5 separate regions of the Homo sapiens genome follow, and regions 2, 3, 4 and 5 are each linked to region 1. Evidence: fine-mapped expression QTL. A gene starts in region 1. Each other region holds a variant in brackets. All regions are shown on one strand. Distances are between the middles of the regions.

Region 1 (6,096 bases):
CCTCGTTCATTTGCTCAGAGAGACATTGCTGGATTCAGTGCCAGGTGCCCATTCCCTTCTCCCCAACACTGCCCAGTGGACACCGGCTGGCTGCAGTCTTCTCCTTCCTAAGCAGTGATTGTAGCAGTTTCCAGTGTGCCAGGCACTGGCCACAGGCTTCATAATCCATGAACTCATTAGTTCTTTTATCATCTCTTTAGAGTAGGAATCGTCTCCAAATCCAATCCCCCTCATCTGTCAAAGGTGAGAAGACTTGGGCTGCAGGTCTAGGCTGATTTCCTTCCAGACATACAGCCACATCTGGCAGCCCAGAGCTGGGTGCCCGCCAGGGCCAAGGTGCCCTCGTCCACAGCCCTGCCTTGGTGCTCACCTCTCATGCCTCTACTCACTGGAGGGTAGCCTCCCCACAAGGCTGGTGACACAGGCCAAGTGGCCTTTGCGAGGACTTGGGCTCAAGTTCACTGGGGGGAGAGGGGTGAGGATCAACTATCAGGAGGACTGGGGGCTTTCACGGCTCCCAAACACCCCAGAAAGTGAGTGAGAGCCCCTACTTCCTCAGGAAGGTTCTGGAACACTGAACTTGCTCAGGAAATCCCAGCTCACCAGGTGACCTGCTCTTCACCATCTCTGCACTTCCAAGAACCCCCTTGCCTTTGAGATCCCCCGCACCACCCACATCCTAAGGCCAGCACCTGCCTGTTTCCATCCTTGCTTAGTCTCTGATGCACACGCACCCACCCCCCACACCCCACACAGCCAGCACTGTGCATTTGAACATGTGGGGCATGAGCTGAAGCCCTTTCTGCAGGCGTTTTGTTCAGTCTCCCCCAATCAGAGTCTGTGGAAGAGATCTCCTTCCTCTCCATTCCCCAGCAGGGTACTGTCCTGAGACACACTCCTGAACCTCTCAGCCACTCCATTGAATGATCTGTGTCACTGGCTCCTGTTATGTGCTATGGGACTCTCTGTACTAGGCATGATATGTGGAATATCTCATCTAATTCTTGCAGATGAAGGGAACAAGGCTCAGAGAGGTTAAGACACCTACCCGTGGTCACACATGGAAAGAACTGGGAATCCACCCCAGCCAACTGGAGGGCAGAGCCCCACCTCAAACTGCTTGGTGTCTGCCATAGCACTGCGCCCAGAGCCCAGCCGCAGAAAATCCCCAGCAATTTCTCCTGAAGACCTGCTGCCTTGGTTACCACGGTCACCCCACGCCTGGCATAGCACTTGCTCCAGTCAAGCTTGCTGAAGACTGGGATGACCGACGGTCCACCTGACTCTGTTAGTGACTGGTGCTCAGGAGGAAAGAAGACATCCAGGAGAGACCTGTGGTCACAACAGGGGAACTTACCAAAAACAGGAGCCACCTTAAATAACACCCAGAGCCAGACTTCCGGTCCTGGCCCACCACGCTCATCTCCTACTCAGCGATCTGAGTGGTGGTGAGGGGGTGAGCGGGACCAGGAGCCAGTGGGCAGGGCTGGTGTCAGCTGCCCAGGAGCAGTGGCCGATGGGAAGGGACACCCTCTGGAACCATTTGATGCCCAGCACAAAGTGAGCCGGGGCCAGAATCCTGGGAGGAGGGGCAGAGGCTGGAGGTAGGTTCATCTGGCTCAACTGCCACCTGCCCATGGGACTGAGGGGGCTGTGGGCAGGCCCAGGATCCACCAGCCACAGCTGTTGGGCTGATAGGAACTGTCTCTGGGGCCATCAGGGTGAGGGAGTCCCCTTACCATCCCTACCCCCACCTAGGGGTCTTCTTGACCCAATGAAAAGTTTAGATTTCCTCCAGTGGAGAGGAGAAAACTATGGCTGGAGACCCCGGGTGTGGGATGTGGGGCACAGGGTTTGGGATGGGGACACACACACACACACACACACACACACACACACGGCTGTTTCTGAAATCATATCCGCCTCTTTTCATGCATTCTCTGGGAGAGGAAGATTCCCTGGAGCTATCCCCAGGCAGCCACATTCTCAGGGAACACAGACTCCCACAGGCTGGGCTCTGGGGGAGGGGGGTGGGTCCACCGACTGCCGTCTTGCTCCTGAGTGCCCACTGAACCCCAGGAAGGGGTCCTGATGCTCCCCTCCCTCTGGTAGGGCAGGCACCATCTGCCTGGGCCTGATGGCAGCCGGGTCGTCAGGGGTTATTATTAGACTCCCTGTCACTGGCGCTTGGGCACCTCACACTGGATCAGGATTCCCTCCAAGAGGCCCTGCTTTGCCCTGATCTGTCCCATATCTGGAGAACTTGACACAGGGAGAGGCCGCCGGGGGCCAAAGTCCTGAGATGGGCGCCTGGCTCTGAATAAATGGACCTCATCCTGGTCCACTGGCCCCAGAATCTTTGACCCAACACAAGGAACTGATACAGGTGGGCTCCCGGGGCCAGAGCAGGCGTGACCAGACCTGAGACGGGCTGGGAGATTCTGCAGCTTTGTTTGTCTGGGCAGGGAGGTCTGGGGAGCCCTGGCCCTGTTTGTGGGGTGCAGAATCCTGCCAAGGGTCAGCAGAGTAGGGAAAGGGCGGGGAAGCCGGGAGTGACTGCCCTAGGCCAGAAATTCAGGGCTTAAAGGTGTGAGGTAGAGAGAGGGGCGTGGGGGAACAGGAATGGGCCAGTCTAGGACCAGGGGACACAGAGAAGCTGACTGTCAATGCAAGGGGGTCCTCAGGACAACAGTGTGAGATGGGCTGACGGAGGCCACCTTCCTTCCCTGGAACAAGCGCAAGCAGCTGTGGGTTCTCTGCGCTAGAGGGGAAGTGACCCACACCGCTTCCCCAAGCCCTGCAGCCTTCCAGCTGAGACTCCCACCCTGCAGGCCGGGGCTGGGGAGGAGGGGTGCTGCGAAGACCGACTCGGGAGACTCTACTCAGTTTCTGCCAAACTTTCCTAGGCCACTCAGCCCCGGAAAGAGAGCGCCCCATCTTGGAATCTCAGACGGTCGAAAACTTCGGGGCACCCCTCAGCATCCCCGCACCTCGCGCGCCAGGATTACCCCGAGACGAATGCCCCTGTCCTTACCCCTCCCCCGCGCCGCCCTGCCCGCTCAGCGTTCAGCCCCTCACCCCGCAGGCGGTCTTGCGCCCTTCCTCCCCTTCCCCACGCTCGCTTCACTCTGATCTCTTCAGTTTTCCCGGCCCCCAGGTTCCCAGACAGGAGGGGACGCGGGCCACGGGCCTGGGAGGGTGGGGGAAAAGGGGAGAGGGGAGACGGGAAAGGGCTGCGCGGGGAGAGAAGGGGTCTGAGAGGCACGTGGGAAAGTGCAGGCTCTCGAGGGGAGAGGGGGTAGTGCGGGGACTTGGGGCGCGCGTGGCTGCGGTCTGGGGCGGCGTAAACTTACCTCCTGGTAACTCTCGTCGCCGGGGCTGAAGGTGCTGTTCACGGGCTGCAGGCGCAGGCCGACGTGCGGGACGCTGTGCAGCCACACGACCCACCAGGGAGCGATGTAGTCCACGCGCGCCGCCTGCATGGCTCGGCCCGAGTGCTACCCACAAGCTGAACGACAGCTGCGCTCACCTCCCGGCCGGGGCCCCGTGCCCGCCCCGCCCCCGGCCCCGCCTCTCCCTGGGCCCGCGCCCGCCCCGCCCCGCCGCGATCCCAGTCCCAGTTCTGGGCGCGCAGCCCGCTGCAGTCAACAGCCCCTTTCTGGGCGGGGATCTGTCCTGGCCGGATGGGAGGAGGGAAGTGAAAAAAGCTCCCAGAAGTCTCTAAATCAGTTTCAGTCTCGAGGTCCCCGGGCTGCTTCTTATTTATGATCAGATCAAGGGTATAAGGTGTCAGTGGGGGCAGCCAGCAGTCATAGGCCAGAGAGGGGCGACTGCCCGTCCCAAGGGCTTGTCACAGGGTAAGTAACCGACAGACTGGGAAAGGAAGGAGGCAATCTTCAGCCACTCGGTCACTCATTCTAAATTCACTCTCATTTTTTGGGCATCTATTGTGCAAGCCCTGTGGACTTAAAAAGAGAAATAAGACGCCGTCCCTGCCCTCGGGAGCTCCCGGCGCATCTGCCCCAACAACTCGCTGAAGCCGCCTGCAGGACGCCTGAGTGAGGACAAGGTGTCTCACTCAGAAAATTTGCTTGATTCTTCCTGGCAAGTGGGACAGGGTGAGCTTCCCGGAGGAGGGGACCTTCGAGCTGTGTAGCGGGGAAGGTAGGAGAGCGATGAGAGCGCCCGGAAGGGACAAGCATTCGGGGAGACTGAAGCGCATTCAACAACATATTTATTGAGCACCTACTACGTCCAGGCACTGTTACATCGGTGATGTAACAAAAGCCGACAAAAACCCTCACCCCGAGCGCAGGCACCGCAGAGGGCGATGACGACCCGAGAAGATGCCGAACGCAGGCCAGGAGGGGGCTCTGGGGAAAAGCAAAGGCAGGGGAGGTTGCCCATCGGGGAGCCTCGCGTCCCTGGGCCCTCCGTACTCTGCACATATGCAGAGGCCCCCACCCGTCCTGTAACCGCAAACTGCTTGGCGTGACTTGGCCAGCGGAGGGAGGAGCCCAGGCTGCAGGACAAGCAGGAGTCAGGGGTAGGTGCGGTGGAGTGATGGGGTCGCGGCAGATTGGGCGTGGAAACCGCGCTGGGCAGCCAGCCTGAGGGGTGCGTATCCACCGCGGCAGGGACGCGGGTGAGAAAGGAGCCCCGGGAGGACGGGGCGGGGCTCCTAGGGTTCTGGCTGAAGGGACCGGGTGGATGCGGACCGACTGAAAACGCTCGCAAACACATATGGCTGCTGGGGAGTGGGGCCCCAGTCACCCGGTGCTCAAAGGCCCTGTGTCCATTAGAGGAAGTCCTGGCCTCGGGGCCTCTCCTCGTGGCCGTGATCCCACGGTTCTGGGGCCCTGCAGGAGCCCAAAGCTGAGGGGCCCGGAAGGCTGGAAACAGCCATTCTTCTCTCATTGGGGTGTCTTTCAACAAATTTTCTTGAGCACGTTCTCTGTTCTAGAGGATACAGTAATGGATAAAACACACGTTCCCGCCTGCATGGCGTCTACAGCCTAGTAGGCGAGGTGAGGTGGACTTGTATCCTGCAAACAGCGATTGCAGGCCTTGTGAAATGTCAGAGTCCCTGCTGTAGGGAGAGGGGATGGAAGGTGGGCGTCAGGGTTGTTTCCCAAAGGACAGTGACATGAGCTGAAGGATGATCGGGAGTCAAAGAGGGGGGTGCTGGGGGAGGCCTCTGTGCAGAAGGAACAGGACCCTGTGAGATCAGGGACTAAGGCCAGTGGAAGGGGAAGCAAGCAAGTTCCAGAACAGGACAGGGAGCCGGAGAACTGCAGGAGCCAGGCGATCAGCTTGGAGACTGCGGCAGGGGAGGGAACTTCTTTGGGTGAAAACCTCCTTTTAAAAGGTCTTGGTCTCTGACTCAGTCCCTGCAGTTGCTGGGGAAAGTGGACTCTTCTGGTAGCTGCTTTTACAGCCCCTGCCCTCAGAGGCCCCCCAGGTGGGAAGGGCCTGCCTCCTAGGCAGTGGGTGGTCACCGAGGACTGACTTTGAACCCGGGGCAAGGGAGCCCCAGAAGGCTGGAGGCCTGCACACGGCACTGGAAGAAACAAACTGCAAAGGCTGTCCCTCAGGGCTATCTCCACAGCCACCGGAATGCGGCCTGGAATATCCAAACCTGTCAGCCCACCTGCACCCAGCCAGACAGCGACCATTCTAGCTGCTTCCCCGGAGGCCTGCTGACCCAGAGAGGTGTCAAAAAGCTGAAGCACAACAGACAGACCTCCCACAGACTCAGCAGGGAGTTGGAGGACAGTCGGCACACCAGCAGCTGTAGCCCATCACCTCCCCCCTCCCCATTCACCTGGTATGCAGCACTTAAGGGCTTGCTGAAGCCCCAGCAAAGCAGAGGCCCACCTGAGAGCTTGGAAACACACCTATGCCCCAGACCACCGCAATCGCAATCTCCAGTCAGCCCTGGCCACCACAGTGAACTGCCTAAGTGCCCCAGATGACTGAGTCACAAGCCAGGGCTGGGAAGCACTGCATGAAAGGCGGCCTTCTCTAGACAAGGCTGGACACACCCCTGCAAGGCCTGTCTCCTAGGAGCTGGGATGAAACTCTGGACGATGTGCT
Region 2 (6,096 bases), 30 kb before region 1:
GATCCCCCTGCCTCAGCCTCCCAAAGTGCTGGGATTACAGGTGTGAGCCACCACACCTGGCAGATCTGATGGTTTTAAAAACAGGAGTTTCCCTGCATACGTCCTCTCTCTTTGCCTGCTGCCATCCATGTAAGACGTGACTTGCTCCTCCTTGCCTTCCACCATGATTGTGGGGCTTCCTCAGCCATGTGGAACTGTGAGTCCAATCAAACCTCTTTCTTTTGTAAATTGCCCAGTCTTGGGTATGTCTTTATCAGCAGTGTGAAAATGGACTAATACACGTGTGCATTACTCATGCCATGGTGATAGGGATGGCAGGAGAGGGGACAGGAAGGAGGTCACTGAGCATAGTTGGGGCAGGTGGGAGAGGCTGCCCAGTAACCAGCCCAGGTGATGGCTGAGCCTGCAGGCAGCTCCTGAGAATGGAGGTGTGGGTCTGAAGGGACCCCCGTGACCCTAGCATGATGACGATGAATGCACAGGAAGCCAGTGGTGGCCACTGTTTATTGGACATTTTCTGTGTGCCTCCCAGGATGAACCCACTCATCTTTCCCTAGCAACAGCCCTTTGAGGTAAGTCCTGTTATTCTCTGTGTTCACCTAGGAGGAAGCTGAGGCACAGAAAACCTCAGGAACTTTCCTGGGTTTCCACTGCTGGGAAGGGGTGAAGGGAGGATGTGGGCCCAGACAGGGTGGCTGCAGAGGCCACACTCCCACCCTCTGACTCAGGGGCAGGCCTGGCTGCCCCTTAGCTGGAGGAATCCCCTGAAGTTCTCTGTCCCCAGGCTCGGTGGCCAAAGCACTTGTGACAGCCATTGCCTCCTCCCTCACAGCTGAACCCATTTCCTTCCCCTTCCTTCTTCCAGGGCTTCCCAGCCTCTCTGCCTGCTCTAGCCCCTCACCCCAGACACCTCCTGACTCGCAGTGCTGACCACGAGGGGTGGCCCCAGGGCCTGGAAGCTTGGAGCTCCGCTGCTCCCTCCTCTCCCTGCCTCACCCAGAGCAGATCTCCAGGGCAGTGCTCTGTCCTCATGGAGTCCTTTCTAGGGACAGGGAGGGGTAGGGGTCGGGGGTGGGGAAGGGAGGCCTTGTCAATCCTCTGGCCCCATGGCTGTCAAAACAGGCCTCAGAGAGCAGGGTGGCATTGGGAGGCCACACAAAAGCTCTCCACAACAACCCCGGGACAGCCGGCCGCCCTCCCCGCCCTCCTGGCTCCTCCTCACCCGGCTTCCTATTAAAATGCAGCAGCATCTCCAGCCCGTCAAAAGCCCATTCAGCTCCACCGCCTGCTCCCCATCTCGCACTCAGGGGCCTGACTAGAGGAATTAGGGAAATGGCCTTTCTCCCCAGCTCCCCGCATTCCAGGGCGCCCAGCTGGGAGATTAAATGGCCTCTGGTTTTCGTGAACACTGAAGCCTGGTGAGAGGGAGGAGCCCCCACTGGGAGGGGCGGCCACCACAGGGCAGCTCACAGCGGCAAGCTGGAAGCCACCGCTGCCTCCAGAAGGCAGAGGCTGCCCAGAAAGCGGGATGGGGCCCTGGAGGAGTTCGCCGTGTGCTCCCTGCAGCTTCCCTGTGCGTGGCCCTGGCCCCAGAGGAGAGGCTGGAGGCCAGGCAGCTGCCTGCATCACCCTGGCCAGCAGTGGCACTGTTTACAGCCGTCCCAGCTCCTGCATGCTTTCAAACATGACTTGGGCCTTTTCTCGACCATTCCTTGGTCCGTGGTCACTGCACTGGGGTGGCAGGAGGCAAAGACAGAAAATGCCCCCTCTTCTCCCTTCTGCACAAGCCTCTGCCTAAGGTGCTAAGTCAGGCAGTGCCAGAGTCCCTGAGGGCATTGTGTCCACGCCCAGAGCTAGTGGCCAGCCCCCAAGTCACTGGACGAGGTGTGAGTGTGGTTAGGGAGCTTCTTGTACAAGCCACCCCCATCTTATCCTATCAAGCCTCAGGTCACTATGGCAGAACAGATGCATGTCCCAGGGTTAGTCTGTGGACTTTGAATCAGTGAGGGGTTCCTTGAATTCCCCTGGTAAACTGTGTTCTCTTCTATCACGTGCATGTGCATGAACACACACACACAAACACACACACACACACACACACACACACTGCACCTCCACTGTATCAAAGCCTGGGGTTGCAGTGATCTGCCTATGAGTCTTGCTTCCAAAGGCTGGAACTTTGTCAACAGCAAACATCACGTCCTCTTGGCTTCCGCAACCCCAGGCAACTTGTACCATCGAGTGCCACCCAGCAAACAATGTCAGCTGAGTGAATGAACAGCCTCATGCACACAGCTTAGCGCCAGTGTTAGGTCCTTTAAAGATCATGTGGACCCGCATAGGAAGCCCCCAACTTTTTTTTTTTAAGCCATTTTGAGACATCACATCCAGAAACATACAGCATGTGTGCTTCAGACCGCGGGAGTCCTGGGACATTGGGATGGAAGGCAAGTCAGACACCACATTCTACAGTCCCAGGGCCTGGGGAGCTGGCAAAGCAGCAGCTTCTGATGCGGGAGGGATTCCCCAGTCTGAGGCTTGGACCCCTACCCATTCTCAGGAGACCCGGTCAGTTCTTCACACCCAGAGAGAAGCGCCCTGGTCACCCAGGCACGCCTAAGCCTAAGCACGTGTAAGCCTAAGCATGCCTGGGCAGCCGGGGGCTTCTCTCTGGGTATGAAGCATGAGTGTCTTATCCTGGCTCTGACCCTGGGCAGTCCCCTTCCTTTCTCTGGGCCTGTTTCCCCATCTGTAACGAGAGGGGC[C/T]GGTTCAGATGACGCAAGTCCCTTTGGTTCTGAGATTCTGGGATTCTAGGTTAGGAGCTGGGACCGGAAGCTGGCCCTGCTTGGAGACACACCAGAGTGTCCTGGCAGACCAACCACCACCCACCACCCACTCCCTCCCCCAACTCACCACTGCCGCAGAGCCATCAGCGGCCAGGGATGCCCAACTGAGGAGCAGGCTCAGTGCCCCACAGCACAGCATCCTAGGAGAGAGGCAGGCGACAACGTTGGCAGGCGGGGTCCCCTTCCTCTCAGCCATCACCCCACCCACCCTGCCCCCAGACCCTTGCAATGGATCCAAAGGCAGCCTCAGTCCCTGCCCTGACGTGGGCCCTGCTCACTACTAGGAAAGGACCATGGAGCCCAGGTCCTTGAGGCTAAAGAGACCCAGGCGTGAGAGCACAGGCTAAGGGGGCAGTGTTGGCTAAGACGGCCAGAGGCTTTCATGCACGGACCCATGTTTCTTAGCTGCTCAACAGAGTCAGGCCCAGAGAAGGAGGAAAGCCTAATGCTTGCTCGTTTGGTGACCAGATGGTGAGTTGGTGGCTGCTGTCTGTCTCCTCTGCTGAGTGCTGAGGACGGGGCAGAAGGTGGCCTCAGGCAGCCTGGCTATTTTCCCCACACTCTGGAGCTGGCCAGGCCCTCGTCTCTCTCTGATGATGGCATCCTGCCCAGCTCTTTGTCCCAGGTCCACGGGTAGGGATACTCACGAGGCCAGGAGACACTTGGAGCGCTTGGCCAGTCCCAGGCAGGCAATGAGGCAGATGACCAGGTCCAGGATAAAGAGCAGGAGGTAGGAGAGCCACCTGGGTAGAGGGGCAGGGATGGTCAGGAGCAGCAGGGTGGAACTTCTGACCTGCTGGCCACGTGAGAGGCCTGCACGGCAGCCCTGGGACACACTGGACCCTCTACTATGGACATGCTGCCCAGAGCCAGCAAGCACCCAGCATGCGTGGGCTGAAGCCTCGGGAGCTGCACCCCCACTGCTGCCTGGACAAAGCTGTCAATTCACACCCCCTGCCTTCACCTCTAGGCTGAGTGTCAAAACCAGCACTGTGCACTAGAACTTTCCCCAGTGGAGGAGCTGTTCTAAATCCCTGCTGTCCACTCTCTTCTTTGCCACTACCCACAGGTGGCTACCGAGAACTTGAAATATGGCTTGTGCAACTGAAGAAATACATTTTAAACTTTACTTAATTTTAATTAATTTCAATAGCCACACATGGCTGGGGCTACCACCCTGGACAGCACAGCTCTGAAGTGTCTTTCTGCGGCCTCCCAGCAGGCATCGCCTAGGACCCTGCTTCCCTTTGCTTCTAGAACTCTCAGACAGCATCAGACCAGCCAAGGCCTGATGTTTATAGCCACAGATCTAACACAGCCCCTAAGGTGCCTGCCTCTTTGACAAACACTCAGCCTGGCTCCCCAAGGCCTCCCATCTTGCCCCCTTGCTGGATGGGATCCATAACTTAAGACTTTTAGGTTCAGGACAGGCGCAGTGGCTCACGCCTGTAATCCCAGCACTTTGGGAGGCCAAGACGGGCAGATCACTTGAGGCCAGGAGTTCGAGACCAGCCTGGCCAACGTGGTGAAACCTCATCTCTACAAAATATACAAAAATTAGCCAGGTGTGGTGGCGGGCACCTGTAGTCCCAGCTACTCGGGAGGCTGATGCAGGAGAATCACTTGAAACCAGGAGGCAGAGGTTGCAGTGAGCTGAGATGGCGCCATTGCACTCCAGCCTGGGCCACAGAGTGAGACTCCATCTCAAAAACAACAACAACAAAAAACTTCAGGTTCATTTTTAAACAACATTTGTGCCAGGCACTGAGCTTGGCACCAGGGATACCCAGGTGAGTGGGCTCGTTTCTGACCATCAGAGGGCTCAGTGTGGAACCCGGGAGTCCAGGTCAGGGTACCTACAGCCCTGCAGACCTCCAGCCTCCTCCAAGCCCTTCATTCCTCTGGCCTTTTTGTCCCCAGGGCTGGACTGATGGGGAAAGGCAGTCACACCCCAGCTGGGAGACCTTGGTAAGCCACTTCACCCCTTGAGACCTTGGTTTCCATATCTGTAGAGGGAGCTGGAACCCCTCATCTCACAGGGCCAGAGGAAGGATTAAGTGCTTGCTAAATATAAAGGTTGATGGGGCAAGGCAGCCAAGGACTTCAAAGGCCCTGCCCTCCTGCTTCTCCAGAGAACAGGCTGAAGAATCAAAGTATCTTAAGCCAACGGACACTGAGAAGACCCCAAACAAAGTGCCCTCGTTCCTTTCCCTTCCACACAGGTCCCCAAGGTGGTCCTCACAAGGCCCAGTGGTCTCCCCTGGCAGCCATGCCCTTTACCCTGTGCTGGGCACCAGCGGGAGAGTGGACAGAGGAGGGGCGGGCACAGAGACAGGGGCTTCCCCGTCCCCAAAGAGGGAAGTATTTGGATCATTATTTCTCTTGCTGCAAGAGCCAAGTAAAGTCGCTGACCTCTCCTCTCCAGCAATGGTTTTCTGCTTCACTGACATCATAAAGGGGAAGACGGAGTTTGGAGCGTGGGCAGGGAGTGCCCTGGAGCTGGCAGAAAGTGGCAAAGAGGCTCCGAGGGAGAGAGGGGAGGGAGCAAGCTGGAGGCCTGGCAGCCAAGGGAGGTTCTTTCTGACTCCCCGAATTGAGGCTTACTGCCAAAAGAAGGGGACTAATCAAAGTCCTTGTCTCTGCACGAGCAGGGGGCAGCACACACTAGGTCTCTGGGGTTCCCCGGAATGGAGCCGGGGGCTTTGGGGAGTGGGCAGAGCCTGCTGCCACCAAGAAGCCAGTTTCCTTAGACTTAGCTCAGAGCTGGAAGGAACCTCGCAAACCATCTAGTGTTTGGATCACATTCTTATTTTTACACGCACACACACACACACACACACACACACACACACACGTATTATAAATACCGGGTCTGTCTATGTTGTCCAGGCTGGTCTCAAACTCCTGGACTCAAGAGATCCTCCTGCCTCAGCCTCCCAAAGTGCTGGGATCATAGGTGTGAGCTGGATCCCATTCTACAGATTAGTACAGATTAGAAAGCCAAGGCCCCTGGTGGGGAGAGCCTGGCCCAGAAATTCCACATTGTCTACATCAAGCTTCCTGCAAGGGACACAGCCAGCTACAGGGCACCTCTCGAAATACCCAGTTCATGTTTCAAACTTAAAGATTTCTTCTCACCACTCGCCTCCGCTCTGCAGAGCAGCAGGAAATCCAGTTAGGGGTGCTTCTAACCCACTCTCTGTGGCTGTGATTCAATGTATTTTCCCTGCCTCCACGCCTCATGTTGTCA
Region 3 (5,000 bases), 670 kb before region 1:
GAATTTGAATTTCAGACAACCAATATTTTTGTATAAGTATATCCCAAATATTCCACGTATTTTTTGTTTATCTGAAATTCAGAATTAAGAGGGCATCCTGTATTTTCATTTGCTACACCTGTCAGTCTTGCTCAGGGAGCGTACAAGTCTCCAGGTGCAAGTCCTCAGGGAACTCTTCGGGCTGGCTCTGGGGCAGGATCTGTGTGAATGCAGCCATGTTTTAGACACCTTTGGGATGAGAGAGGGACCCTGGTGAGGGCCACAGCAAGAATAGTCCTCGAGAGCACCTTATCCTGATGGGAGTGGGTCCCGTACAGTCGGCAATGAGCCCATCAAATGGGGCTGATGGCATTCTCTTCCTTTTCCCAGGGACAAGGCCCTGGGAACCCCACAGGCCTAGCATGGTGCTGGGCACCACTGGGGGTCCGACAATGCTTATGTGAACAAACAACTGCATGAAAGAACAAATGGGGCTGGGCGCAGTGGCTCACACCTGTGTTCCTAGCACTTTGGGAGGCCGAGGTGGGTGGATCACATGAAGCCAGGAGTTCGAGACTAGCCTGGCCAACATGGTGAAACCCTGTCTCTACTAAAAATACAAAAATTAGCCAGGCATGGTGGTGGGCATCTGTAATCCCAGCTACTCGGGAGGCTGGGGCAGGAGAACCCAGGAGGCGGAGGTTGCAATGAACCAAGAACCCATGAGGCAGAGGTTCACCACTGCACTCAAGCCTGGGCAACAGAGCGAGACTCCATCTCAAAACAGAATAAAAATAAAATAAATAATCTTTTTCAGCAGGACCATCCATTTTCCAACTAACTCAGCAGCATGTGGTCATCCGCCACCGCCCTCAGGAAGTGTGCGAGTGAAGGGCGCTGAGCCTGGTGCAGTGAGCCCTCTGCGGGGGTGTTCCGCTGTCCTTTCCTGGCTTGCAGTGACTGGTATTGGGAAACTTTTCACGTCGTTCCAGAAACAGGCAGCATCTTCAATAAAATTAGCCACATCTTCTGTCCTAGATAAAATATCGGAAGAGGCTTACATCTGCATACCATTTGCATGTATCTGCTTAAGAAACACCTTAGCGTGGCTTTTGCATTCCAGACTGACTACTCTCCTAGGAGTCAGAGCGCACGTGCTGCTGCTCAGAGCGGCTTCCGAGAATCCCACTGGGGATCCATACTGCAGAAGAGTCACCTCTAGGGAGAAGCTCTTGGCCCCCACCAGGGCACCGCCCCCACCTTGTGGACTGGTCAGGGGATGGTGTCCCTGCTCTCTCAGACCACTCCTGTAGCCCCTCCTGGCTGCTGCTCCGGGCTGAGAGTGCTCAGTGTTATTAACGAGCAGATGCTTCTAAGAGAAACACACACAAAATCATTGCATTGGATGCCGGGGTCATCACCTGCAGTGCCTCCAATCACGACAGACTCTGAGACTCATTGCCTGGGCAGTCACTGGCAGATTGGCACTCCAGGGGTCCAGCCTCCCACCCCCAAATGCTTTGCAGAGCCTCGTCAAACGGACACGATTGTATTGACTGGCTGCCACTCCGTGGTCATAGATACCTGAGAGTTGATGGTCAAAGCGGATTAGCTGGGGCTGTAAGGCAGGACGGCCCTGGACATGCAGGGTTTGAGGAGGTGGGGGTGTTCTCCGGGCTCTCAAAGGTCCTGCATTGCTCAACTGTGCCTGACAGGGACCCCAGTGTCATTTCTGGTTCCCTCCTCTAGGTGTGCACAGCCTTCACTGCAGAGCACGCCACGCATGGGCACGTCAAGATGCACCATGCCTACACCAACGTGGTGGGCCTGGGGGACTCCAGCACGTGGAGGCTGCCTTGCCTCAACCGCTATGTCTACATGTTCCTTGCTCCTTTCCTCCTCCCCATCGCCACTCCACTGGTGGCTGTCGGTGAGTGCCATGAGAGCCCGGTCCGCAGTGTCCTGCATGGACCTAGTTCCCCTGCTCTCCTCCCCTGCGTGGCTTCATGGAGGCTGCTTATAGAGGAAGGCCCGATAGATACGTGCTGAGACAGCATGGCAAGGTAGAAAGAGCCTCAGACCTGGAGCTGAGTCTGGCTCTGCCGCTTACTAGCTGGGGACTATGGGCAGATAACTTAACTTGTCTGAGCCTCGGGTCCTGTACCTCCTCCTCAAGTATGGTGTGAAAGAAAATGAGGTCCTAAGTATAAAAATGTTTTGCAGGGTCTGCGTGTGGTGGCTGACACCTGTAATCCTAGCACTTTGGGAGGCTGAGGCAGGTGGATTGCTTGAGCTTAGGAGTTTGAGACCACCCTGGGCAACATGGTGAAACCCCATCTCCACTAAAATACAAAAAATTAGCTGGGCGTGGTGGTGGGCGCCTGTAGTCCCAGCTACCTGGCAGGCTGAGGCAGGAGAATCACTTGAACCCAGGAGGCGGAGGTTGCAGTGAGCCGAGATCTCACCATTGCACTCCAGCTTGGGCTACAGAGGAGCCTCTGTCTCAAAAAAAAAAAAAATGCTTTGCAGATGCCTTGCACAAATAATACTTCATGTTATCAGCTTTGATATCAGGAGAGCTATGTCATATGGTGGAGGGAGGCAGGGGTGATGGGGCAGCTAGACCTGGGTTCAAATCCCAGGGCTTGACCTTGGTCAGATTGCTTAATGTTTCTGTTTCTTTCTTTGTTTCTTTTTCTTTTCTTTTCTTTCTTTTTTTTTTTTTTTCAGAGTCTTGCTCTGTTGCCCAGGCTGGAGAGTGCAGTGGCACAATCTCAACTTACTGTAGGTGGCACACAACTGTAGTCCCAACTACTCAGGGGGCTGAAGTGGAAGGATCACCCGAGCTTGGGAGGCCAGGCTCCTCCTGAGTAGCTGGGACCACAGGTGTGCGCCACGACGCCCAGCAAATTTTGTGTATTTTTGATAGAGATGGGGTTTCACCATGTTTCCCAGGCTGGTCTCGAACTCCTAGGCTCAAGCGATCTGCTTGCCGTGGCCTCCCAAAGTGCTGGGTTTATA[G/A]GCTTGAGCCATCGAGCCTGGCCTCTGTTTCTTCATCCACACAATGGGGTGCCCTGCTTTTCAGGGCTGTTGTGGGTATGAATTGAACACGCCTGGCCTCCGCCACTGCTTTAGCACGCTTGAGCCAGCAGGGAGCCCCTCCTGATGGATCTGAGCCTTGCCTGTCCCCTCCCTCTATGGCAGAGCGGCTGAGGAAGGTGGAGCTCGGGACAGCCCTGCGGACGCTGGCCCTGATTTCTCTGGGCCTTTATTCTCACTACTGGCTGCTCCTGAACGTGTCAGGCTTCAAGAACCCCAGCTCAGCCCTGGGCTGCATGTTCCTCACCAGATCCCTGTTGGCCCACCCCTACCTCCACGTCAACATCTTCCAGGTGAGGCCACCCCAACCTGGGGCGCTGGGCAGCTAAGGGGAGCATTCTCCAGGGGCCCTGATCACAGGCTGGACTCTAGGTTGAGGAGAGAGGGGCCACCTGAAGGATGAGGCATCCTCCCTCTCGCTCTCATCACACTGTGCCCTCGCCTCGTCCTGGAGAGACCCTGCCTGCCCTCTCAGCAGTCAAGATCCTACTCATCATTCATGGTCAAGTTTGACAGGTAGTGTCAAGTGCTTCCTCTGCCAGGCACTATGCTAGGTCTAGGAAATCAGGGGTGAACAGGAGCTTCGGGTTGGTGCAGGACAGGACACAATTATGGGATTAAGTAATTAACAGCAGTTGTGGTAAGTGGTCCCCTCCCGACCACCCCCTGCTCTGAGGATCATTCGAGTTTTGGTTTCAGGGAAGAAGCAGGCTTCTCAGCTGGGTGCGGTGGTTCACTCCTGTAATCCCAACACTTTGGGAGACTGAGGTGGGTGGATCACCTGAGGTCAGGAGCCTGGCCAACATGGTAAAACCCTGTCTCTATTAAAAACACAAAAATTAGCTGGGCATAGTGGCGAGCACCAGTAATCCCAGCTACCTGGGAGGCTGAAGCGGGAGAATCGCTTGAACCCGGGAGGCAGAGGTTGCAGTGAGCCGAGATTGCGCCACTGAACTCCAGCCTGGGGGACACAGTGAGACTCCAGCTAAAAAAAAAGAAATAATAATAATAATAATGAAGTGAGCTTCTCCTCAACATAGTCAGCATGCCTTCCTCCATGCGCGGATGCCAAGCAGTAGGAGATAAAGGCCCCTAGTGCCTGCCCCGAGAAAGATGGAGGAACTGGAGACGGAATTCCTCACGGGAGGCCAGGGCTCAGCATTCAGCTCCAGCGTCATTTCCAGAGGGACGTCTCCCTGCTCCCTGCCCAGGGAAGGCCTCAGAGTAGAGCTTCCTGTACTTCCTTGTCCAGCACTTACCACAACTGCTGTTAACTACTTAATTACTTAATCCCATAATTGAGTTCTGTCCTGAAACCACCGAAGCTCCTGGTCATGTCTGAGTTCCTGACCTCTGAGTTCCTGAGCACCTGGCAGAGGAAGCACTTGACACTGCCTATTAAACTTGACCTTGAATGATGAGTAGGATCTTGACTGGTGAACAGAGCAGGAAGGGTCTCTCCAGAATGAGGCAAGGGCACGGTGTGATGAGACTGAGTGGTAGGCAGTTGAGAGCATTAGGGAACCATGGGACCTGAGAGGTGTGCAGGCTAAGCCCCTCACTGTTCAGATGGGGAGGGAGGCCCAGAGATGGATGAGAGTCAGTGCAGAAAACAGACAGGGTCATCATCGGAGCTGGGCCAGGAGCCCCTCTACCAGGTCCCCCCACATGGGAGGTGGGTGACACAAGAACCCTCTGGGTAGCATGAGGTCCCAGGACACCTGGAGTGGGGTGGGGAGGTCCAGGCTGCCCGGCGTGACCCACGTGTCTGTCACAGCACATCGGACTGCCCATGTTCTCCCGGGACAACAAGCCCCGTCGGATTCACATGATGAGCCTGGGGGTGCTTAACCTGGCCCGGCTGCCCGTGCTGGACTGGGCGTTCGGCCACTCGATCATCAGCTGCCATGTGGAACACCATC
Region 4 (6,096 bases), 100 kb after region 1:
TGCACAAACTCCGGGTTGGCCCGGGGGAGGCTGAGCACCAGCCTGAAGACTCACCACCCTGGTCAGGAGCAGCTGGCAGCAAGACCACACCCTGATGGGCAGGCCAGGCAAAGCTTGAGGCTGGAGAACCCAAGGTTGGGAGCTTGACTGAAATTGGGGGTGTCTTTGATCACCTGTTGAACTGCTACACCATCGGAAGTGGCTTATCCACTGGGGGATTCCCTCCTTGCCTACTCAGCGCCTTGCAGGTGACAGGTGCTGAAATCAGTGCAAACAGAAATGAGAGGATCCCCAAATCAAAACCAGGAAATATTCCTGCCACTCAGCAGCTCTCCTTCCCGCTCCCCGGAGACAGGTGGCAGAACTCCCTATTATTGTCTTTGGGGGCAAATTGAGCCTGGGGCAGAGGAGGGAGAGAGAAAGACAGCTCAACTTGGGGTGGCAGGTCACAGATTATGTCCTGATTGTAAATGTCTGACCCCTGGCCCACCAGCTCTCCGTGTAACCCTCTTCCCCAAACAACCATCTCCTGATTTTCCTGTATCCCCGTCCCGTCTCCACCTCCCGCCTGCCCCTGCCCCCACCCCCTCCCCAGTTCAGATCTGCCTGGAGGCCTGGATGGCGACCATATGTTTAAGATGTTCCACTGCTGCTGTTGAGAGCCAGAAGGGCTGCCTGGGAGAAGGCACTCAGTCAAAGCTGTGTTTATATACACAAGGGCCGGCGTCTTTTTATTATGCATAATTATACGCTTCTTAATGTACAGGCATTTCGAGCCATTTTTCCTTCCTTGGTGAAGTCGCAGCAGAGGCGGGTGTGAGTCCGGGTGCTTGGGGGCCGGGAGATGGCTGCTCTTGTCTCCTTAACTCGGGGGTGCTGAGCCCTGAGCATGGCGGGTCCCTCGACCGATCAGCGTGCGAGGTCGCTCTGACCGAGAGAACGAATTCTTCCAAGGGGATCGGGGAGCCGGGACGCGGTGGTACATCGTGGAAATGTTGTAGATCATGAGGTGAAGCCCTCTCTCTCCCTCTTTGTCTTTGAGCCAAAGCCTCAGATACGCACTCCTGCCCTCATCCTGAAAGAAAATGTTAGATCCTTCCTACAAAGCATTGTTTTACATCTATACCCAGCGATTCTCCTCTTCTTTCTAAATTTCACAAACTTAGACTCTGAAAACCTGACATTGAGAGGTGACAGCATGCTGGCAGCCCTCACAGCCCTCGCTCGCTCTTGGTGCCTCCTCGGCCTCGGCGCCCACTGTGGCCGCGCTTGAGGAGCCCTTCAGCCCGCTGCTGCACTGTGGGAGCCCCTTCCTGGGATGGTGGAGGCTGGAGCCGGCTCCCTCAGGCTGCGGGGAGGTGTGGAGCAAGAGGCACGGGGGCTAACCGGGGCTGCGCACAGCGCTTGCTGGTAGAGTTCCCCGGGCGTGGGTTTGGCGGGTCCCGCACTCGGAGCGGCCGGCCGACAGTGAGGGGCTTAGCACCCGGGCCAGCAGCTGCGGAGGGTGCGTCGGGTCCTCCAGCAGTGCTGGCCCACCGGCGCTGCGCTCGATTTCTCGCAGGGCCTTAACTGCCTCCCCGCGGGGCAGGGCTCGGTACCTGCAGCCTGCCATGCCTGAGCCTCGCCCCTGCCCTCGCCCCCGCCCCCGCCCCCGCCGTGGGCTACTGCGCGGTCCGAGCCTCCCTGACAAGCGCCGCGCCCTGCTCCGCTGCGCCCAGTCCCATCTACCGCCCAAGGGCTGAGGAGTGCGGGCGAACGGCGCCGGGCGGGCAGGCGGCTCCACTGGGTGAAGCCAACTGGGCTCCTGAATCTGGTGGGGACTTGGAGAATCTTTATGTCTAGCTCAGGGATTGTGAATGCACCAATCGGCACTCTGTATCTAGCTCAAGGTTTGTAAATGCACCAATCAGCACTCTGTGTCTAGCTCAGGGTTTGTAAATACACCAATCGACACTGTGTATCTAGCTAATCTAGTGGGGATGTGGAGAACTTTTGTGTCTAGCTCAGGGATTGTAAACGCACCAATCAGCACCCTGTCAAAACGGACCAATCAGCTCTCTGTAAAACAGACCAATGGGCTCTCTGTAAAATGGACCAATCAGCAGGATGTGGGTGGGGCCAGATAAGAGAATAAAAGCAGGCTGCCGGAGCTAGCGGTAGCAACCCGTTTGGTTATCTTTCTGTGCTGTGGAAGGTTTGTTCTTTCACTCTGCACTATTTTGCAATAAATATTGCTATTGCTCACTTTGGGTTTATATTGCCTTTATGAGCTGTAACACTCACCATGAAGGTCTGCAGCTTTACTCTTGAAGCTTAGCGAGACCACTAACCCACCAGAAGGAAGAAACTCCGGACACGCCGCCTTTAAGAACTGTAATACTCAGTGCGAGGGTTCACGGCTTCATTCTTGAGGTTAGTAAGACCAAGAATCCACAAATTCCAGACACAACATGGTAATATATGGGGTCACTATCCTTATAGTGAGGGTTAAGCTTTAAATCATCACAATGAAAGCTTTTTGTTTCTCTAGCGTAGCAGCAAGGGAGAATAAGGCCTCTGGAGTCCAGGACTTGGGTTCAAATCCAAGCTCCACCGTAGCTGTGTGACCTGGGTTTATCATTT[C/T]GCCTTTTTGAATTTCGGTTTTCATTGAAATAATGGGAATAACATTAGTTCCTATATCATGGAAAGTACCTAGCACGGTCCTTGGTGCCTTGTAAATGCTTGGAAAATTATCCTTTCTCCTGTGGTGATGGTTCTAATAGACTGAGTTTTATGAGAGCAAGAGTGGGTGTCTCCCATCCACTGCTTTCTTTTTGATACCCTGAACTCTGCTGATGGCAGCAAACATTTGCTGAATCGTTGTTGAACAAGGAATGAATGAACACCGGGTTTGGAATCAGGGTCTTTTTTTGAGACAAGAGTCTCACTCTGTCTCCCAGGCTGGAGTGTGGGGGCTCCATCTCGGCTCACTGCAAGCTCCACCTCGGAGTCACGCCGTTCTCCTGCCTCAGCCTCCCAAGTAGCTGGGGCTACAGGCGCCCACCACCATGCCTGGCTGATTTTTTTGTATTTTTAGTAGAGACCGGGTTTCACCATGTTAGCTAGGATGGTCTCAATTTCCTGACCTCGTGATCTGCCTGCCTTGGCCTCCCAGAGTGCTGGAATTACAGGTGTGAGCCACCGCACCCGGCCAGGGTCTGTGTTTCATTTACCGACTGTGGGGCCAGGCCGTACAAGACCTCTGAGCTCCACAGATGCAAAGTGAAGAAGTTATGGATTGGCCCCATAGGCATGTGACGATGAGATTAACTGAGAGGCGCTGAGATAAAGCACGTGAAGTGTTTAGCTTGGTACTCGGTGTCAGGTCATGTCCAATTTTATTAGGAGCTTATATTCCATTCTGTAGCAGCTTGCTATTTTTATTTTTTTTTACTTTTTTTTTGAGACAGTCTTGCTCTGTCGCCCAGGCTGGAGTTCAGTGGCGCCATGTTGGCTCACTGCAAGCTCCGCTTGTCGGGTTCGCGCCATTCTTCTGCCTCCGAGTAGCCGCTTGGCTAATTTTTCTATTTTTGTTTAGTAGAGATGGGGTTTCACTGTGTTAGCCAGTATGGTCTCGAGAGATCTCCTGACCTCGTGATCCACCCGCCTCAGCCTCCCAAAGTGCTGAGATTACAGCGTGAGCCACTGTGCCCGGCCGCAGCTTGCTATTTGAAAGCATTTTTATTTCCATCACCCCATGTGATCTTCAAAACAACCTGTGGGCTGGGCAGTCTTCATCCCACAAATAAGAGGGTTTCAAGCCGGCCAGTGGAATCCCAGCGCTTTGGGAGGCGAAGCAGGGGGATCGCTTGAACCCAGGTGTTTGAGATCAGCCTGGGCAACATAACAAGATCCTTTAACTATAAAATTAAAAAAACCAGTTTCAGAAGGGTGAAATGACTTGCCAGCCACAGTGTCCAAGCCCCATGGCACTACCCGCCCCCTACCTATCCCGCCTTCCTGTTTGTCACTTTTGTTCCAATGCAACTTATTTGGTCCTTTGAGAGTGTCCCAGACTTTTAAATGTAGGAGATGCTGGAGCTCTGTGGTGTACATAAATCTTTCTTTGAAGCCTGCTTCCACCAGGAAGGCCCCCTAGGATGAAAAGACTTAACAGTCCAAAATGTTATCAGCCCACTTTGGAGAGCCCTTTTCTGGGCCCCTACCCTAGTGGGGAAGCACACACAGACTGCCAGGCTGTCATTCATACGGAGTTCACCCTGGGAGGAGCAGACAGATTACTGTGTGTGGGGCAGGGCACTTCCCACACACTTGCGTGGGGTTTCGAGCGGGGACGGTGGCCAGGGGCCCTGTGTATACACATTTTTTTTGTTTGAGACAGGGTCTTGCTCTGTCTCCCAGGCTGGAATGCGGTGGCGTGATCACGGCTCACTGCACCCTTGATCTCAACAAGCAATCCTTTCATCTCAGCCCCTCAAGTAGCTGGGACCACAGGCACGTGCCACCAGGCGTGGCTCATTTTTTTTTTTATTTTTGTAGAGACAGGGATATCCCTATGTTGTCCAGGCTGATTTTTGAAATGTGCTCAAGCGATTCTCCCACCTTGGCCTCCCAAAGTGTTGGGATTACAGGCATGAGCCGCCGTGCCCGGCCAACGCATATGCTCTGTGCTGACAGATTTCTTCTGAGCTAACAGATGTTGTCCTTTGACCCATATTGACCCTGTTGGAACACCCTAAATATTATTTAGCTGTCTCTCACCAAAACATTACAAGTTAGGCAGTTAGAGCTGTTTTTCAGATTTACCTGGCTGTTATGTCTTTTTTTTTTTTTCTTTTTTTGAGATGGAGTCTTGCTCTGTCACCCAGGCTGGAGTGCAGTGGCGTGATCTTGGCTCACAGCAACTTCTGCCTCCCGGGTTCAAGTGATTCTCCTGCCTCAGCCTCCGGAGCAGCTGGGATTACAGACACCCACCACCACGCCCAGCTAATTTTTGTATTTTTAGTAGAGGCAGGGTTTCACCGTGTTGGCCAGGCTGGTCTCGAACTCCTGACCTCAGGTGATCTACCTGCCTCGGCCTCCCAAAGTGCTGGGATTACAGGTGTGAGCCATCACACCTGGCCCATCCTGAATTTTCATCTGCTAAACGTAGCAACCCTAAGGACTGGTGACTTCCCAGCGTTGGGGCAGCTGCAGCTCTTCCCAGCTCCACTCTGAAGAGCTGGGGACCAGCCTGCCTTCCGGTCTCACCAGGAGCAAGGGAGATGCCAAGCTCCTTGGATGCTTCTCTGAGGAGACTGCGAATCCACAATAAAGGAAGCGTCCTTGGTAATGGGGAGATTTACCATCTGAAGGGCACCCCTCCCACTCGTAGGGGTGATTAGTTCCTAAGCACTTTTCTTGCAAGTGCTCTGTTTGTTCAGGGACACAGGAGGAGGCCCCCATCAATTCTTTCTCGTTCCCACCGCCCCCTGTCCCCCAGAGATTGAGAGTCAGGAGGTGATCTTCCCTCTCGCTTCCATTACTTTAGCACCTGAGTTACTGAGCCATTATCCCTTTAAGAGTTCTTTATTCGACCTCAGGCAACAAAATCCAAGGAGCTGCAGAAGCGCTTCCCTCTGCTCCGGGGCAGTACCTGCCCACTGGACTCGCCATTCATTTAGCTCTTTTATGGGCTGCCTCTGTGGCTCATGGCTAAACAACCTTGGGTGAGACCTTAAACTCCCCGAGATTTATTTTCCTAATCTGTAAAATAAGGTGGTTGAAATAGGTGCTCTCTAAGGTCCCTCATTTTCTGTGATTTCTTGCAGCCAATCTGGAGACAAAGCCCCCCATCCCAACATAATAGAGTTAAAAGGCCATGGCCCAGCCCAAGGGGCCATCAACTTTCTCCAGCTCACCTCCCCAAACCTTCACCCACCTCATCATGCAAAGCCAGCAACTCAGGAGGTGGGAAATTGACAAAGTTAATAGAAGACAGGAAAGGACAGAGTTGGGTTGAGATTCCCTCATTCAATGAGCAACGTGCATGAGGAATTGATTTCCCCCACCTCCTGTTTACTATGGTTTTTTTCCCCCTCTGGTGCAGGGAAGAAA
Region 5 (6,096 bases), 280 kb after region 1:
CAAGGCGGAGCTCTGCAGGGCTGGCATGCAGTTTGCTCTTTCCTGTAGGTTAAACACTTCTCTTTCACTCTGGTTTACACCAGAGTTTGTTTGTTGCGTGGCCCAACCCTCCCATTTCCTAACTTGCACAGGTACATTTCTGGCCCTCCAAAGTGGAAACCTGCTTGTTCTTCAATGAACAAAGGGGCTCTTGCTGAATGTGTGTGTGGCCCTGGAGTTGAAATCCATCTCCTTGACCTTGGAGGCTGGTTTTTCCCAACTCAGGGAAAATTGCTAAGAGTCCAGCAGCAGGCTCAGTGTCTTTTTGGAGTTTTCAGAGCTAGGATGCTCCTCTCTCTCAGGCTCTTTAAGAACCTTCCAGCATCCACCTCCAAGGGGGAGGTTTGGCATTTCCATATCCTTGGCTGGCAAATTGTAAATTTGGATATGAGCAGAAAATATAGTGACATCAAGGTTATGTGGTCTGCAGCTGACAAGATGGATAGCCCTCAGCTAGGCAGCATTTCCCAGCTTCTTCTTGGTTTGCACTCTCTGCACCTCTCTTTCTTTTAACCTTTTTTTTTTAAGGAAAACATTTTTAGAGACTTTAATAACTGTGGAAGGATGCTGTAAGGCGGGCAGGGAAATTGATCATTTTTATTCGGTTGTGCGTGATAAAATGTAAGTTTGAGCCATGAATCTTCTTACCTTGAGGGAAAAGAACGGTGTGCCTGGCTGTTAATATGACTCCCTTTTTGGAGATTTTAATGAAGGAATCCCGCTCCCCACCGCAGATTAATTCATAGCTGTGGACAGGGCGGGGCTGAGGCGGGAATACACTCTTTCCTCCAATCTAGCAACTGCTGGTTCCGTCTCTCTCCACATCTGCGTGTATTCGCTGTCTATTATTTTTAATCAATGTCTCACCAAACACATATAAAGCTCCCACTGTGTGCAAGACACCATGCCTAGCACCAAGGAGGGGAGATGCTGAGGAGTATCTCAGAGTCCTGTGTAAGTTGCCCAGAAGAGGGCTCCTCTCCAGGCCCTGCCTGTGAGCACCCCAGATACCTCCCCACTTGTCTTGGCCACAGCTATATCCCCCTACTGGAACATGGCAAGAGATGAGGCACACGGCTTGTGTTGGCCACAGGACTCCATTTTGGGTACCCTAAAAGGAAAGGCAGGGCTGCAGTCTCAGTCAGCTTGGGCTTCCATAACAGAATGCCATAGACGTTTATTTCTTACAGTTCTAGAAGCTGGAAGTCCAAGATCAAGGTGCCAGCTGATGTGGGTCCTGGTGAGGCCTCTCTTCCTGGCTTGCAGATGGCCACCTTCTTGCTGTGTCCTCCCGTGGCAAGGAGGGAGGGAGAGAGACTGACAGCGCATGCATGCTCTCTAGTCTTTTCCTTCCTCTTCTTATAAGGCCATTCATTCCATCATAGGGGCCTTACCCTGTGACCTCATCTAACCCTAATCACTTCCCAAAGTCCCCACATCTAAATACCATCCCACTGGAGTGTTAGGGCTTCAATATATGCATTTTGAGGGGACACACATATTCAGTCCGTAACAGACCTGTGTTGTGGAGCTCATTTCCTCTTTCTTCTTCTTAGGGGGTTGAGTATGGTGGAGTTGGAAAGTGTGATGTATGGTGTGGGGAGAGGACAGAAAGCGACCTCTGCTGCCAGGCGGAAAAATGCCCACCCAACTACTCCTGCCACATCAAGTCTGTGGCCAGAGTGTAGGAGGGTTCAGGCCACTGCTACCTCCCGCATCCTTGCCCTAGCATCCCTTCCTCAGGTCCTAATCCTAAACCTCCATCAGCTCCCTGCTTTCTGGATCCCTCCCGCAGCCAGGCCCCTCTCTTGCTGTGGCTCACCAGTCATCTGGACATTGCTGGCAATAAGCTTCCTTAAACATCCATGGTGCACACGCTGCTCTGCAAACAAAGACAGGGCATCCAATTATTCCAAAAACAACCTGTTTCTGTTTGCTTATCTGACTCGGACTGTTTGCCCCTGACATCGCTATTGATCAATTTGAACTTTTCCCCTTCAAGTCCAACATGATTCATAATTTGTGGTTGGGAAAAGCCACCTGGGCAGTGGGCCCCCTGGGACCAGGCCCTGTGCACCCATAATCTCATTTAATGCTCTATGTGGTTGGTATCATGATTTCTATCTGAAAGACAAAGAAAACAGGGGCTGGGGGAAGGTGAGCATTTATCCAAATCTCCCAGCTTATAGGTGATGGTTATCAGAATTTGAACCCAGGTCTGTCTGTTCCAAAGACTGGCCCCTCTCTAATACATTGAGATGCCTCCTGTGTAGGCACCCAGTTTTGATGGTCACCCCAATTCAGAATTGCAATCAGACAACAAACACCAGAGAATACAAAAGGCTGATTGTGACTCTGCGTAGGGAACAAGTGTACCAAGCTGTGCCGACAGTTTGATGGTGGGTCAGTGTGACATCTTGGAAAAAATAGCAGCTGATTATATTTTTCAAATCGACATGTGTTTTTAAAGACTTTTGAATCAGATGTGAGTCAGGAGCATTAGGGCAAAAGTGTAACACTTTTTTTTTTTTTTTTTTTTTGAGACGGAGTTTCGCTCTGTCGCCCAGGCTGGAGTGCAGTGGCGTGATCTCGACTCACTGCAAGCTCCACCTCCCGGGTTCACGCCATTCTCCTGCCTCAGCCTCCCGTGTAGCTGGGACTACAGGCGCACGCCACCATGCCCGGCTAATTTTTGTATTTTTTTTTTTTAGTAGAGACGGGGTTTCACCATGTTAGCCAGGATGGTCTCGATCTCCTGACCT[C/T]GTGATCCGCCCGTCTCGGCCTCCCAAAGTGCTGGGATTACAGGCGTGAGCCACCGCGCCCGGCCAGTGTCACACATTTATATTTGGTGAATGTGGGAAATTTCTCCCATGAAAACAAAGTGAGCAGTCACTCTTGAGGTCTGGGTGCATAAATTATAGTACATTTATACCATGCGATATTATGCCCTATTGAAAACAATTAGAGCAATATTGGAGGACAGAGAGAGAGTTCCCCAAGGTATTGTTGAGTGAGGAAAACAAGATGCAAGAAACTGAATATCATATATTTCTGCAAAACAAATAATGACAAAAGGCTGGCTATACATGTATAAGTGCACACATGTGTATAAGTGAATGCATGTGGGTGTGTATAAAAAGTTACATACATGTATGTACATACATGTCTACCACATGTAGTGTGTGTATGTATATATTTATACAGGATAATATGATCATGAAGAAAAATGTGGAAGGATCCCTACTAGGCTATTAGCATGAATTTCTAGTGGTTATGGGTGGAGGACAGAGGAGAGGTGTCAAGGAAAGTCAAACTAACAGGAAAAAAAACTAAGAGTCTGCACAAACACACACACACACATACACATGAATCATGTAATGACAACATTTATGCATTTAAATAAAGGTATAGGCATTCATGTAAATACATTCAAAGAAAAGTTGTAAGTTATTTTCCTACAGCAACAGAGCACTTACCCCAGAGATCTGCATGAAGGCATGACAGTGAACAGGCCTCTGCAGATCCAGACGGTACAGTCTAGAGGCTGGGGACAGCTACTAGGAAGCCACATCACTGGCTTCCCACTCCCTGCAATGGGAAGGGTTGGTTTATTCCTTGGCTTTACAGCCGGCACAAGGAAGAGGGGTACCTGTGTGATTTGGGGGTCTTCTCCAGCTGCTGCCTTAGAGTCCCCCACCTGGTTCAGGGGTAAGTGAAACAGTAGAAGGGGAAAATAAACTCTTTTCTACTTCTACTAACATTAGGGTAACCGTAACACTGATCATTTAAACAGGGACCACTTTGAGAGTGAAGAGCAGAACTATGAATAATTCAGGTGCAAACCACGACTGTCCCTAGCACACCTGGCTGTAGGGTCACCCTAGCTATAGCTCCTAAATGGGGGGTCTACATTCTAAATTTCACCATCTTCTCCATGCAAATGTGAGTATTAATTGATCCAGAACCCTGTAATTGTTGTAACTGGAGCCCAACAGGACTGAAATTACTCTTAATTATCATCCCATCCCAGGAGGGAGGGTCCTTTTCCCTCAAAGTTACAGAGACACGTGGTGAAACCAAGGGGGACGGGTGTGTGGCTTCCATGGGGCCCTGCTTAACCACAAATGTCAATGCTCTGGGCTGAGCAGGGCTGGGATTCCTGCACATGCTCTGTGTGGTTGGCCTGATCTATAAGAGACTAAATAATGACCAGGCTTGCTGCTAGAGCACTTTGTAGCTGATGTGTCTGGCATCACCAGCTTGGATTACTAAATGGGTACATGCTGATTAATCTACAAATTAGGTTGATGAACCCCCACCCTAGCTGTCTCAAGGATTTGTATATCTCCCCGGTGCCCTTCTTCCCAAGCATCCCTTTGTTAATTCAAGGGATCTACACAGAGACTGGTATTTGGACCAGGGCAGAGAGAAAGATAGAGGGGGAAAGATTATTTTTTCCCAAACTATTAATATCTACTAATCTGAAATGCCATAATTGAGGGCTAGAGGCAGCATTTTTCTTGGCTAGCAGGGGGAAAGCTATTTGAAATGGCCTTGAGAATATGACTAACATGAAGGAAGCAGACTGCAGAGATAAAGATGAAAGAAAGACCCTGATGATACTGTTTGAGCCACTTGCACCCTCTTCCTTGTGCTGGATCTTCAGGAGCACCTGAAGTCTGCTCCCCAAAGTTGGCAGAAAGAATAATGGCCCCCAAAGACATCCACATCCTCACCTCTAGAATCTGTGAATATGCTACCTTACATGACAAAAGGGGTACTGCATATATGATTAAGAATTTTGAGATGGGGAGATTACCCCAGATTATATGGGTTGGCTCAGTGTTATCACAAGGGGAAGCAGAACAGTTAGAGTCAGGGAGGGAGATGTGGCCATGGAAATAAAGGTCAAAGTTATGCCATTGCTGGAAGTGGGCTGTGAGCCAAGGAATTTCAGGCATTCTCAGAACCCAAAAGGCAAGGAATGAATTCTTCCCTACATCTTTTAGAAGGAATGCAGCCTTGCCACCATCTTGGTTTTAGCCACATAAACCCATTTCTGGATTTCTGGCCTCCAGAGCTGCAAAATAACACTTTATGTTGTTTTAATCCACTCACTTTGTGGTAATTTGTTACAACAGCAATTAGAAAACCAATACTCTCAGCTTTCTGGTGGCATGAAGCAAATTTTCTTGAGTTAGACTTGATTTTCCATCATTTGTAACCCCAAGAATCCTGTACTAGTAACCAGCTCCAGGAGGACTAACATCCCTTTCCAGAACAGCCCAACTACGATACTCTCCCAACTTGTCCTTTACCTCAGAAGTCCTATAACTAGGGCTTGAGAGGAACATGGGGACAGATTCGTCAACTTTCTCCTGCAAATGAAAAATCCAGTCAGGCTCAGATAGATCCAATGACTTGCCTGAGCAGTTGAAGGGGTTTCTACCCAGCATGGGTTCTAGATCTGGAGTCCATGGACCGGCTGCTGTGGCCCAGTGGACCTGTGAAGTCCTAGAAAAGAGTACAGGTTTGAACAAGTATGTGTGTCGATACCTTTCTTTCTGCAGCCCCTTGGGTGGTCCAGAACCACATCTCCCTGGGGCTGCTTTTGCAGCTGAGGAACCTGGAGGTCTAGCCCATCCTGACCTTGGCTCTGCCCTGTGCTCCACACCCAGCTAACCCATCTCTTTCCATGACACGCCCTAGATGGCCTCCCCCACGGAGCACATTTCTGAGTGGAGCTGCCTGGAGCAACCACTGAGATCAATCTCTTGGGATGCCAAAACGCAGACACCATCCCGCCTCCTAGATCTGATTGTTTTGACAGCTTCACCAAATTACAAAGCAAAGGCCCCATTTGGTGATGAGAAAAGCAATATTGTGGCAGGGGCGGCTCATTTCTTTGAAAATCAGCAGTAAGTGAATTTGCATCCACTTAGTAGTAAATACATCTGGCTGGCCCCCTCTACAGCAACTGCGAGGGATTTACATGCACTTGGGTTTGTTTTATTATTTTATGATGGAGAGAGGGGGGAGAGGGAAGAGGGAGGGGAG

Which allele goes with the higher level. Positions count from the first base shown, and alleles are read on the strand shown. Sizes are in standard deviations (SD) of each study's normalised expression. Not every link is listed here.
In carriers of allele G in region 3, the expression in whole blood of the gene that starts at base 3,499 in region 1 tends to be higher than with A alone (moderate effect, 0.58 SD a copy in Lepik 2017).

Evidence for each region.
Region 2: its variant is fine-mapped to the expression of TTYH2 in whole blood (TOPMed, PIP 0.97).
Region 3: its variant is fine-mapped to the expression of TTYH2 in whole blood (Lepik 2017, PIP 0.95).
Region 4: its variant is fine-mapped to the expression of TTYH2 in whole blood (INTERVAL, PIP above 0.99).
Region 5: its variant is fine-mapped to the expression of TTYH2 in whole blood (INTERVAL, PIP above 0.99).

The regions. Positions count from the first base shown.
Region 1 is chr17:74,210,974-74,217,069 of GRCh38, reverse strand. It overlaps TTYH2 (tweety family member 2), which reads right to left and starts at 3,499. Exons shown (of 14, transcript NM_032646.6): 1 at 3,354-3,499. The coding sequence starts at 3,482. MGC16275 (a long non-coding RNA gene) reads left to right here and starts at 3,749. Exons shown (of 2, transcript NR_026914.1): 1 at 3,749-4,546; 2 at 5,388-6,096. RefSeq lists an enhancer at 1,155-1,204 and a silencer at 3,463-3,622.
Region 2 is chr17:74,240,867-74,246,962 of GRCh38, reverse strand. TTYH2 (tweety family member 2) reads right to left here. Exons shown (of 14, transcript NM_032646.6): 5 at 3,494-3,589; 6 at 2,914-2,986. Among named protein-coding and RNA genes, the nearest start is that of DNAI2, 30 kb to the left of the region's middle. RefSeq lists an enhancer at 1,187-2,081. The variant C/T (reference allele first, on the strand shown) is at 2,766.
Region 3 is chr17:74,879,439-74,884,438 of GRCh38, reverse strand. It overlaps FADS6 (fatty acid desaturase 6), which reads left to right. Exons shown (of 6, transcript NM_178128.6): 3 at 1,729-1,909; 4 at 3,184-3,371; 5 at 4,856-5,000. Among named protein-coding and RNA genes, the nearest start is that of FDXR, 8.9 kb to the right of the region's middle. RefSeq lists enhancers at 1,464-1,994, 4,401-4,900, 4,901-5,000. The variant G/A (reference allele first, on the strand shown) is at 3,001.
Region 4 is chr17:74,108,962-74,115,057 of GRCh38, reverse strand. It overlaps LINC02074 (long intergenic non-protein coding RNA 2074), which reads left to right and starts at 2,159. Exons shown (of 5, transcript NR_184085.1): 1 at 2,159-2,412. The variant C/T (reference allele first, on the strand shown) is at 2,623.
Region 5 is chr17:73,932,975-73,939,070 of GRCh38, reverse strand. LOC107985081 (a long non-coding RNA gene) reads right to left here. Exons shown (of 3, transcript XR_001752999.1): 3 at 5,425-5,553. All of the region lies in intron 5 of LOC105371888 (a long non-coding RNA gene), which reads left to right. Among named protein-coding and RNA genes, the nearest start is that of LINC00469, 110 kb to the right of the region's middle. The variant C/T (reference allele first, on the strand shown) is at 2,802.